Linked DNA regions of Homo sapiens: regions 2 and 3 are each linked to region 1. The links come from fine-mapping of genetic effects on gene expression. A gene starts in region 1. Each other region holds a variant in brackets. All regions are shown on one strand. Distances are from middle to middle.

Region 1 (4,104 bases):
TTCCTTAACCAGTCTATAAATAAAGTATGGCCTTTAATTTAGGAAATCTCGATACTTTATTGGAACTCAACTTTATAGCTGTGTCATTACCTAACCTACAGCTTATCCCAAGTAGGTGTCAAGCTCCATTAAGTGTTCAATTTCAAACTGCCATTACCTGTGAATCCCTCGCCTGCATTCACACATTAACTTACTGTGTCCTATTCTCGGCTAAATCTTTATTTCAATGGCTTAACTCTCAAGAAGAATGAAAACAAAAAGATCACAATCTCCACTATATTTAGAAGCTTTACATTTTCTTGAAAACTGAGCTTTTTATAGCGCTAAACTGGATTAACTGCTTTCTTACTACTCCACTGGAATAAATACAATTTACTTGTGACAAAGATTAGCTGTCATAAATGTAGAAAGAGTAAAAAAACAAACTAGAGACACAAAATCTGGGTTCCAATTCTGACTCAGCCTCCTGGTAGCTGGCTGACTACTCGATGTTCCCAAACTTCAGCTTTTTTGTTGGTAAAAAATGGAGAATAATATCATCTACCTATAGAGTTATTGCAAGGATTATCATAATTTACGTGAAATCACTGTAAACAGTAAAGCATCATAGAAATGTTGGGTAATATTGGTGGTATCCTGGTGGTATGAGTAAACAATAGACTAGAGAAACATGTACCTCAAATAAGGGACTTACTTTTTTCACTAAATAAACATCACTTTCCAAAACAAATACGCATCAGGAGGACAGCTCGAGATAAACTCTGAACTAGGATTCAGGCATCTGGATGAATGCATCTTCTTCAGCCAGTTCCACCATTAACTCTAAGTATCAACACAGGCGAAATAATTTTCCTTTTCATCTCAAATGTCTTCATCTAAAAAATCCAACTACTGGACCAGATGTTCCATAAGTATTATTACAGCCTTTATCAGCCTACCAAATGACTAAGTATTCAAAAGAGTCGATTAACATTATATTCAAAACTTAGAGCACTGTTTGGTCTACCAGCAAAACAGAACTTAAGGGCAGACGATAAAAAAAATATTTTTAATTAAAAATAGAATTATATACAATTCTCGAGAAGCAAAGGATGAGTTAAACTACCTATAATAGTTCTCCCTCTAAATGACTAGTGATGAACAAGGTGCATTAACAAAAGGGCGGGGCTCCTTCCCACAGCTTTTTGGGAACCGCCCACTTCCCAAAGAGGTGTAACTGCTACCTCCTTGTCTTCATCTGCCAAGAAACTTGAAAGATTAAGGTTTATATTGTCTGAGAGAGGATTTTATTTTTCTTTTTACTTGGGTGGGGTTGGCAGTAGTCATCTGGCAAACATATCCTATAAACACCATTATCCACAACGCCAGGTCTCCCCACAAAGTCTTAAAGATCTAAGTTTTTAGAGTAATACCAATTTTAAAAAATAAGTTCAGACTATTAACTCAAAATTAGATTACTGTGTTAACAGTAATCAGTGCTGCCAACTGCCAAGTTTTCGCTTCTCCGAATTATTCACCCTCCCGCGTCTCCGCAGAGGCTACGATTTGCCCTCTCCTGCACCGCGCCAGGTCCCGAGAGAGAGTCCGCAGGGGCTCCCAGGAGAGGGAAGGCCGGGCAACCCAGGCCTCGGCGCTGCCACCCCTCGCTCCTCACCGATGACGATGCGCAGGTGCTTGAGGCGAGTCAGTGCGTCCTTCTTGGTGTCTAGCACCTTCTGGGTGGACTTCTTCACGTCCCCGTGCGGCTTCTTGGAGAACATCCTGTCGCTGCCACTGCCACTGCCACTGCCACAGCCGGCTCCCAGCCGGGTCCCGGCGGCAGAAAGTGGAGGGAGTGGACGGGGAGGAGACTAGCCAGAGAGGCTCATTAGCTCCCCAGCCTTGCGGGCCAGGGCAGAGCCGACTCCTTCCCGATCCAGGCCAGGGCCGCCACCTCCACCCGCCTCGCGCCGCGGCTCCAAGGCACCTTCGGCCCCAGCTCCAATATGGCGGATCCCTCTCCCGGCCCTGCACGGAGCGAGGCAGACCCGGGCTGGCCGCCTGCCGCCGCCGCTCGTCTCCAGCGGCCGCCGCTCGCCGCCACAGGCCGGGGCCCCGGACCCAGAGCCACGAAGGTGGAGCTCTCGGCGGCAGGAGCACAACTCTCTCCCTGAGGCCCCCTTAAGGTTGAAGCTTCTTTAGCAGCTTACACCCTGCAGAGGCCGAAACGGAGACGAGTGTGGTAGTGATGGGGTTTCACGACTCTGCCGTCGGTGGCGAACGGTGTCCGTGGCAACCGCCTTCTGACGTCAAGAGTTCTTGACGTCATGCCAGCATGAGATCACCCGTGGCACTCCCCGCCTTGGTTTCCTGTGTAAGCAGCCAAAGGAGAATCTCAAGAAAGGCAAGGAAGGTAGTTACTGCGTGCTCCATTGTAAGCCAAATGATAGTAATAAGCAAAGAGAAGTAATCTTTATTAAATATGTCCATGATTTATCTTTGAAAATGTGCATAAGTTGTTGTGGCCACCAGATCCTCTAGCAGAAAGATAAACGAAGTTACAGTTGGGCAATTTATTCTGTCCTAAATCTATTACTAATAATATTTCCTGCACTATGTATGTGATTTCTTTCATATTTTTTCTATTTGCAATATCCCTGTTTTTTGCTGCAAACAACTTGACAACAGAAAGGCTTAAGCAGAGGTATCTAGGTTTTTTAAATAAAAGTAATCTTGCTTTCCTTTTCTATTGTGCTTTTAAAAATCTTTTCCCCATCTGCACCCCACATAAAGATGAATATATTGTCAGTTTTTCCTCTGCAAAGAAGAATTCAAGGTTCTTATTACATTGATGGAGTCATCTGAAGAATCTGCAATAGCTGAAAAAAATCCGTGAAATTCTGAATGACATAAATTGAAATTTTTATTGGAACCCTTTTTTTTTTTTTCCTTTTTCCTTTTCTTTCCAGACAGGGTCTCTGTGTCCCAGGCAGAAGTGCAGTGGTGTGATCTCAGCTCACTGAAGCCTCGAACTCCCAGGCTCAGGTGATGCTCCCACCTCAGCCTACCGAGTAGCTGGGACCACAGGTGCGCGCCACCACATCCAGCTAATTTTTGTGTTTTTTGTAGAGACGGGGTTTCGCCATTTTGCCCAAACTGGTCTAAAACTCCTAGACTCAAGTGATCCGCCCGCCTCAGCCTACCAAACTGCTGGGATTACAGGCGTGAGGCCACTGCGCCTGGCCAGGAACATTTCCTCCACAAAATAATTTGATAAAGAGTGAGTTTGCTTGTTTGAACTGTTTCCTTCTATGTTCTCACCCATAGCAATAGACTTGTCCAATGAAATATGTGATTAACATAGAAAAATAACAAAATCAGCAAAGAAGAGAGATGTAAGACATTTGCCAAAATTATGTTAAAATATAGTGCTTTGCTTAATGGTAGTTTGTTTCAACAACAATCCTATATTTTTTAAAGTACAAAAAATTTATTCAGTTTCTACATGTAGGGTTTGTTTGTATCATCAAACTTACAAGCCATACATGTTTTGAGGAAGCTTATAACATAATAGAAAAATAAGGGGATTGTTCAAGAGATTTTAGTTCTAGTTCCTCTCAGCATCAGTTTTCTTATTAATAAAATCAAAATAAGGTCTGTCCCTCACAGTTTCGTGAAATTTAGGCAATAATACAATGTTTTCAAGCATGATCTTTAGAATTACATAGACCTAAATTAGACATTCTGTTTTTCACTTGCAAGGACTTACTTGCTCTCGGGCCCTTGGCATGTAGTTCAGTCTCAGCCTGATTTTCCTCATTTGTAAACTACATCAGTGATTGTGATAATTAGGTGAGAAAAGTATTGAAAGTTACATCTATAATGACACATCTCATAACATTCCTTTCCTTCATAGAATTTAAATACAGTAATTTGTGTAACTGTTTACAGATTCTCTCTTTCATGAGACTGTAAACTCCCTGAGGACAGAGACTGTATAGATTGTCTAAAGTTGTATCCCAGTCTTCTTGCAAAGTGCTCTTTGCAAGATAGGCTCAATAAATCTGTGTCGAATAGAAGAACGAATGTCACTGTCCCTTCCTTTCTCTTGCGCAAGTACTCAGT
Region 2 (4,104 bases), 160 kb before region 1:
AAAATGGGCTGAAGATCTGAACAGACATTTCTCAAAAGAAGACATAAAAAAGGAAAACAAGTTAATATGTTCATATGACTATATGAAAACAAGTTCATATGAACACATATGAACTTATGAAAAGATGCTCAACATCATCAGAGAAATGCAAATCAAAACTACTAAATACAATGAGATATCATCTCACCTCAGTTAAAACGGGTTTTATCCCACAATGAGATACCATCTCACACCAGTTAGAATGGTGATCATTAAAAAGTCAGGAAACAACAGGTGCTGGAGAGGATGTGGAGAAACAGGAACACTTTTACATGGTTGGAGTGTAAACTAGTTCAACCATTGTGGAAGACAGTGTGGCAATTCCTCAAGGATCTAGAACTAGAAATACCATTTGACCCAGCCATCTAATTACTGGGTATATACCCAAAGGATTATAAGTCATGCTGCTATAAGGACATATGCACGTGTATGTTTACTGTGGCACTATTCACGATAGCAAAGACTTGGAACCAACTCAAGTGTCCATCAATGATAGACTAGATTAAGAAAATGTGGCAAATATACACCATGGAATACTATGCAGCCATAAAAAGGATGAGTTCATGTCCTTTGTAGGGACATGGATAAAGCTGGAAACCATCATTCTGAGCAAACTGTCGCAAGGACAGAAAACCAAACACCGCAAGTTCTCATTCATAGGTGGGAATTGAACAATGAGAACACTTAGACACAGGATGGGAAACATCACACACCAGGGCCTTTCGAGGGGTGGGGGGAGGCGGGAGGGATAGCATTAGGAAATATACCTAATGTAAATGACGAGTTAATGGGTGCAGCACACTAACATGGCACATGTATACATATGTAACAAACCTGCACATTGTGCACATGTACCCTAGAACTTAAAGTATAATAATAATAATAAAATAAATAAAATAAAATGGGTTTATCCAAAAGACAGGCAATAAATGCTGGCGAGGATGTGGAGAAAAGGGAACCCTCATACACTGTTGGTGGGAATTTATGTTAGTACAACCACTATGGAGAACAGTTTCGAGGTTCCTCAAAAAACTAACAAAGATAACTACTATATGATCCAGTAATCCTACTGCTAGGTATATACCCAAATGAAAGGAAATCAGCATATCTAAGAGATACCTACATTCCCATGTTTACTGCAGTATTATTTACAATAGCCAAAATTTGGGACCAACCTAAGTGTCCATCAACAGATGAATGGATAAAGAAAAGTGGTACATATATGCAAGGGAGTACTATTCAGCCATAAAGAAGAATGAGATCTTGTCATTTGCAACAAGATAGATGGAACTGGAAGTCATTATGTTAAGTGAAATAAGCCAGGCACAGAAAGACAAACATTGCATGCTCTCACTTATCTGTGGGAGATAAATATGAAAACAACTGAACTCATGGAGACAGAGAATAGAATGATGGTTACCAGAGACTGGGAAGGGCAGTGGGGAGTATGGGGTAAGTGGGGATGGTTAATGGGTTCTAAAAAATAGAAAGAATGAATAAAATATAATATTTGCTAGCAAAACAGAGTGACTATAGTAAAAAATAACTGAATTGTACATTTAAAAATAACTAAAAACATATAATTGGATTATTTTGTAACACACAGAAAGGATAAGTGCTTGAGGGGAAGGATACCCCATTTATCCTGACATATTATGCACTGTATGTCTCTGTCAAAATATCCCATGCACTCCATAAATATATACACCTACTATGTACCCAGAACAATTTTCAATAAATAAAAAGATGGGGAAGATCTCTATGAACTTACGTATTAAGGATTTCCAAGATACACTGTCAAGTGAAAAATCCAAAGCAAAGACTATCTAGGCTATGTGTAACAAACAAGGAATAAAAGACGATATACATGCATCTGTTCATTTGTGAAAAAACAATCATAGGATGGATGAACCATAGACTAAAAAAATTAAAACAACAGAGATGGGACAAAGACCCTAAAACTGCATACAAACAGAAAAAAGTGACCTGAACTGAATTTCAAGGTAATTATATAACCATACTGAAGTGGGAAAGGGGGACTACGAAGTAACCCAAATAACTTATGAACACATTTTTCAAACAATAATCTCTCTTGGTAAAGACAAGCACTCTTAACTATAAAGAGGCATAAGTTAATAATTTAAAAAAATAGAACAGCACAAAGAAGTAAACATATCCAGATAAATAATCAATATGGAAACCAGATTTTTCATTGCTGGAGCAGGGAGTTACAAATAAGGAAAACGGGGAAGGATGGACTGAATCTCGTGGTGTTGGATTAGACGTGGAGGTGTCAGACTGGGGCCTGTTGGTGGGGGAAGGTGAGGGAGAGCATCAGGACAAACAGCTAATGCATGTGGTGAC[G/A]GGTTGACAGGTGCAGCAAAACACCATGGCACTTGTCTACCCATGTAACAAACCTGCACATTCTGCACATGTATCCTGGAACTTAAAGTAAAATAAAATAAAATAAGAATTGGAGGTGTCAGTGTGAACTCAAGGTTTTTAATACTTATAATTAGATACCATCTTATTCTGTCTGTGCTGGCATTACAAATACTTTACACTGGGTGGCTTAAACAAGAGAAATTTATTCCTCACAGTTCTGAAAGCTAGAAAGTTGAAGATCAAGGTGGCAGCCAATTCAGTATATGTGAGGGTCCTCTTTCTGGCTTGTTAGATGACCACCTTCTAGTGTATCTTCACACGGTGGATATTAGTTCATCTCTCTTCTTATAAGGGCACTAATCCCATTGATGAGGGCTTCATCCTCACGACCTAATTACCTCTCAAAGGCCCCACCTCCAAATCCCATGACACTGGGCATTAGGATTTCCATATATGAACTTCGGGAGAGACACAAACATTCAGTCTATAGCAGATATAGAGATGGGTGTGTGTGTGTGTGTGTGTGTGTGTGTGTGTGTGTGTGTGTGTATATGTTATGTATTTCCTAGCTGTATCTGCCAAAGAGGACTTAAGAAACGATACCCCAGGCCGGGCGCAATGGCTCACGCCTGTAATCCCACCACTTTGGGAGGCTGAGACAGGCAGATCACGAGGTCAGGAGATCGAGACCATCCTGGCTAACACGGTGAAACCCCGTCTCTACTAAAAATACAAAAAAATTAGCCAGGCGTGGTGGCGGGCGCCTGTAGTCCCAGCTACTCGGGAGGCTGGGCAGGAGAATGGCGTGAACCCGGGAGGCGGAGCTTGCAGTGAGCCGAGATCGCGCCGGGGCACTCCAGCCTGGGCGACAGAGCGAGACTCCATCTCCAAAAAAAAAAAAAAAAAAGATATCCCAGTAGCAATGTGCATGCCTAGTTCTTAGATACTGATTTCTAAACACCATTTGCCACTTAACGGAAGCAGGGTTTCTTGGAGAAATGGGTAATTTCAGGGCTGGGACAGGGAAAGCACAAAGTGAGTCTGGAAAATTGTGTGCTGACAGAAATTAAAAGCATGCCCCCAAAATAATGGGGATTTATGAAAAAGAAGCCACTTTGAAGGGGCTCCCACTGGCTAAGTATGAGACATTTTGAGCACCAAAATAAATAATAGTTAAGGATTACAAATCATTGCATAAAATCAGAATCATGAGCCCACATTGAAATAAGATGAATAAGAAAGAAAGGAAAGCTCTTCCTTATACGTAGAAAGCTAACTAATGAATGTAGAAAAAATGATGAATTAGGAAATCATCATTTGGCAGCTACTGTAACAATAATTGTTTCTGGTAAGAGTCATTAATGATTAGCAAAACCAGTTAGTGGAAATTTAAGGAGTCAAATATTTATATAGTATAGTCTCAAAGTATTGTCTTACAAATACTAATTCATTGAAAAGGATTAAACAGTAGCTTTACAGTGGGAACACCTGGCAGACACAACCTTAATCATTTGACTGAAGTTAGCACCAATCAGTAATGAAACAAACTGACATCTGTGACACCTGATATAATGTATTAAGAGGTGCACAAAATCTTCTGAGGTATTCCTGCCAAATACGCCTAATTTAAATCCAATAATAACAAACCTAATCATGATGAAACACAAAGCCAAAACGCAG
Region 3 (4,104 bases), 170 kb before region 1:
CATTCTCCCACTGCAGGTTTTCATGAAAAGCAAGGGTAGTTTGGGAAAAACTGTGAAAGAGAGAAGATGGGAACTTGCTGTGAATCTAAGACTGATCTAAAACCATGCCAGAAAGAAAAAGTCCACCTTAAGTGTGAGAATATTAAAAAAGTATACTGGTAGATCAGAGTAGTGAGTAAAAAGAAAGGATGTAGAAGTACACATAGGAAAGGTAATGCTTAGGGGGAGAAGACAAACAAACCCAGACTGCGAAGACTATGATAAATACCTAACTCTTCAATGCCCACACACCAATGAACATCAACAAACATCAAGACCATCCAGGAAAACATGACCTCACCAAATGAATTAAATAAGGCACCAATGACCAATCCCAGAGAGACAGAGATGTCACCTGACAGAGAATTCAAAACAGCTGTTTTGAAGAAGCTCAATGAAATTCAAGATAACACAGAGAAGAAATTCAGAATCCTATGAGATAAATTTAACAAAGAGATTGAAATAACTAAAAAGAACCAAGTAGAAATTCTGGAGCTGAAAAATGCAACTAGTGTACTGAAGAATGCATCAGAGTTCTTTTAATGGCAGAACGGATAATGCAGAAAAAAGAATTGGTGAGGCTGAAGACAAGCTATTTGAAAATACACAGTCAGAGGCGACAAAAGAAAAAAGAAGAAAAAAGAATAAAACACACCTATAAGAACTAGAAAAGAGCATCAAAAGGGTAAATCTAGAGTTATTGGCTTTAAAGAGGAGATAGATTGGGATATAAAGTTTATTAAGAAGGATAAAAACATAGAACTTCCCAAACCCAGAGAAAGATATGAACACTCAAGTACAAGTAGGTTATAGAACACTAAGCAGATTTTATCCAAATATGACTACCTTAAGACATTTAATAATCAAACTCTCAAAGGTCAAGGATAAAAGGATTATAAAAGCAGCAAGATAAAAGAAACAAATAACATACAATGGAGCTCCAATACATTTGGAAGCAGACTTCTCAGTAGAAATCTTACAGGCCAGGAGAGAATGGCATGACATATTTAAAGTGCTAAAGGAAAAAAAACTTATTCTAAAATAATATATCCAGTGAAAATATCCTTCGAACATGGAGAAGAAATACAGACTTTCCCAGACAAACAAAAGCTGAGGGATTTCATCAACACCAAATCTGTCCCACAAGAAATGCTAAAGGGATTTCTTCAGTCTGAAAGAAAAGAATGTTAATGAGCAGTAAGAAATTATCTGAAGGTCCAAAACTCACTGGTGATAGTAAGTAAACAGAAAACCACAGAATACTATAACGCTGTAATTGTGGTGTGTAAACTACTCATATTGAAGTAGAAAGATGAAAAGATGAACCAATAAAAAATAATAACAACAACTTTTCAAGACATGGACAGTACAATAAGATATAAATAGAAAGAATAAAAAGTTAAAAAGCAGGGGGATTAAGTTAATATGTAGAGTTGTTATTAATTTTCTTTTTGCTTGTTGTTTATGCAGTCAGTGTCAAGTTGGCATTAGTTTAAAATAATGGGTTATAAGATATTACTTGCAAGCCTTATGGTAACCTCCAATATAAACACATACAATGGATATAAAAAAAATAAAAAGCAAGAAACAAAACCATAATACCAGAGAAAATCACCTTCACTAAAAGGAAAACAGGAAGGAAGGAAAGAAGGATGAGAAGCCTGAAAAACAACAAGAAAATAAATAATAAAGTGGAAGGAGTAAGTACCTACTTATCAATAATACCACTGAGGCTGGGCACGGCGGCTCACACCTGTAATCCCAACACTCTGGGAGGCTGAGGTAAGCAGATCACCTGAGGTCACGAGTTTGAGACCAGCCTGGCCTGCATGGTGAAATCCTATCTCTACTAAAAAACCAAAAAATTAGCTGGGTGTGGTGGTGTGTGCTTGTAGTCCCAGCTAGTTGGAAGGCTGAGGCAGGTGAATCGTTTGAACCCAGGAGGTAGAGGTTGCAGTGAGCTGAGATTGCGCCGCTGCACTCCAGCCTGGGTGACAGAGCAAGACTCTGTCTCAAAAAGAAAGAAAGAAAAAAAAAGAATAAAAAATAAAAACCACTGAATGTAAATAGACTAAACTCAATCAA[AAG/A]AGAGAGTGGCTGAACAGATTAAAAAAATAAAACCCAACGATCTGTTGCCTACAAGAAACACACTTTGCCTATAAAGACACACATATAGTGAAAATAAAGGGATGAAGATGTTCTATGCAAATGGAAACCAAAAAAAGCAGAAGTAGTTACACTTGCATCAGACAAAATAGATTTCAAGACAAAAAAGGTCATTATGTGATGATAAAGGGATTAATTCAGCAAGAGGATAAAACAATTATAAATATATATGCACTCAACACTGGAGCACCCTGATATATAAAGCAAATATTATTAGAGCTAAAGAGAGAGATATATGCCAATACAATAATAGCTGAAGACTTAAACACCACACTTTCAGCATTGGACATTTCATCCAGACAGAAAATCAACAGAGACATTGGACTTAATGTGCAGTATGGACCAAATGGATATTTACAGAACATTTCATCCAATGGCTGTGGAATGCACATTTTTCTCCTCAGCATCTGTAACATTCTAAAGGACAGACCATATGTTAGGCCAAAAAATAAGTCTTAACATATTTTTAAAAATTGAAATAATATTAAGTATCTTCTCTGACCCCAATGGAATAAAACTAGAAATAAAAAATAAGAGGAATTTTGGAAACTATACAAACACTTAGGAATTAAACAATATTGGCCAGGTGCGGTGGCTCGTGCCTGTAATCCCAGCACTTTCGGAGGCCGAGGTGGGCGGATCATGAGGTCAGGAGATTGAGACCATCCTGGCTAAGACGGTGAAACCCCGTCTCTACTAAAAATACAAAAAATTAGTCGGGCGTGGTGGCGGGCACCTGTAGTCCCAGCTACTCGGGAGGCTGAGGCAGGAGAATGGTGTGAACCTGGGAGGCAGAGCTTGCAGTGAGTCAAGATTGCACCACTGCAGTTCAGCCTGGGCGAGAGGCTGAGACTCTGTCTCAAAAGAAAAAAAAAAAAAAGAAATTAAACAATATCTTCCTGAATGATCTGTGGGTCAATGAAGAGATTAAGAAAAAAACTGAAAGTTTCTGGAAACAAATGATAATGGAAACACAACATACCCAAACCTATAGGATACAGTGAAAGCAGTACTAAGAGGGAAGTTTATAGCTATAAGCACCTACATCAAAAAAGCAGAAAAACGTCAAGTAAACAACCTAACAATGCATCTTAAAGAACCAGAAAAGCAAGAGCAAACCAAACCCAAAGTAAGCAGAATAAAAATAATAAAGATCAGAGCAGAAATGAATAAAACTGAAATGGCAAAAATACAAAAGATCAATGAAATGAAAAATTGGCACATGAAACAAAAAATTGATTTTTTAAAAAAGATAAAATTGACAAACCTTTGGCCACTAAGAAAAAAAGAAACAAGACTCAAATAAAATCAGAAATGAAAGAGGAGACATTAAAAACCGATACAGCAGAAATTAAAAGATCAACAGAGCGGCTACTATGAACAACTATATGCCAATAAACTGGAAAACCTAGAAGAAACGGATAAACTCCTAGACACATAAAATCTATTAAGATTTAATCATGAAGAAATGCAAAACCTGAACAGACCAGTAACATATAACAAGAATAAAGCTGTAATAAAAAGTCTGTCACCAAAGAAAGGCCCAGGACCCAATGGCTTCATTGCTAAATTCTACCAAACATTTAAAGAACTAATACCAATCCTTCTGAAACTATTCTGAAAAACAGAGGAGGAAGTATTTCCAAACTCATTCTATGAGGCCAATATTACCCTAATATCAAAATAAAAGACATCAACAAAAAGAAAACTACAGGCCAATATTCCTGATGAACATTGATGCAAAAATCCTCGACAAAATACTAGCAAACCAAATTCAACAATGCATTAGAAATATCACTCACCATGACCAAGGGAGATTTATCCCAGGGATTCAAGGATGATTCAACATACACAAATCAATCAATGTGATACATTTTTGTCAACAAAATAAAGGACAAA

Direction of the effects. Alleles are on the strand shown, and positions count from the first base shown. SD is a standard deviation of normalised expression in the study named.
For the expression in gastroesophageal junction of the gene that starts at base 2,220 in region 1, A is the high allele of the variant in region 2 and G is the other (large effect, 0.94 SD a copy in GTEx).
With allele AAG in place of A in region 3, the expression in stomach of the gene that starts at base 2,220 in region 1 is lower (large effect, 1.1 SD a copy in GTEx).

What was found. PIP is the estimated chance that this variant, and not a neighbour inherited with it, causes the effect. A credible set is the group of variants that fine-mapping cannot tell apart.
Region 2: its variant is the best candidate, but not a certain one, in a credible set for the expression of RALGAPA1 in gastroesophageal junction (GTEx, PIP 0.83).
Region 3: its variant is the best candidate, but not a certain one, in a credible set for the expression of RALGAPA1 in stomach (GTEx, PIP 0.72).

Annotation. Positions count from the first base shown.
Region 1 is chr14:35,807,076-35,811,179 of GRCh38, forward strand. RALGAPA1 (Ral GTPase activating protein catalytic subunit alpha 1) reads right to left here and starts at 2,220. Exons shown (of 42, transcript NM_001346249.2): 1 at 1,655-2,220. The coding sequence starts at 1,760. RefSeq lists enhancers at 1,870-2,430, 2,267-2,366 and a silencer at 1,947-2,186.
Region 2 is chr14:35,642,418-35,646,521 of GRCh38, forward strand. The region is part of intron 31 of RALGAPA1 (Ral GTPase activating protein catalytic subunit alpha 1); the gene reads right to left. Among named protein-coding and RNA genes, the nearest start is that of INSM2, 110 kb to the left of the region's middle. The variant G/A (reference allele first, on the strand shown) is at 2,404.
Region 3 is chr14:35,636,873-35,640,976 of GRCh38, forward strand. The region is part of intron 31 of RALGAPA1 (Ral GTPase activating protein catalytic subunit alpha 1); the gene reads right to left. Among named protein-coding and RNA genes, the nearest start is that of INSM2, 100 kb to the left of the region's middle. The variant AAG/A (reference allele first, on the strand shown) is at 2,125.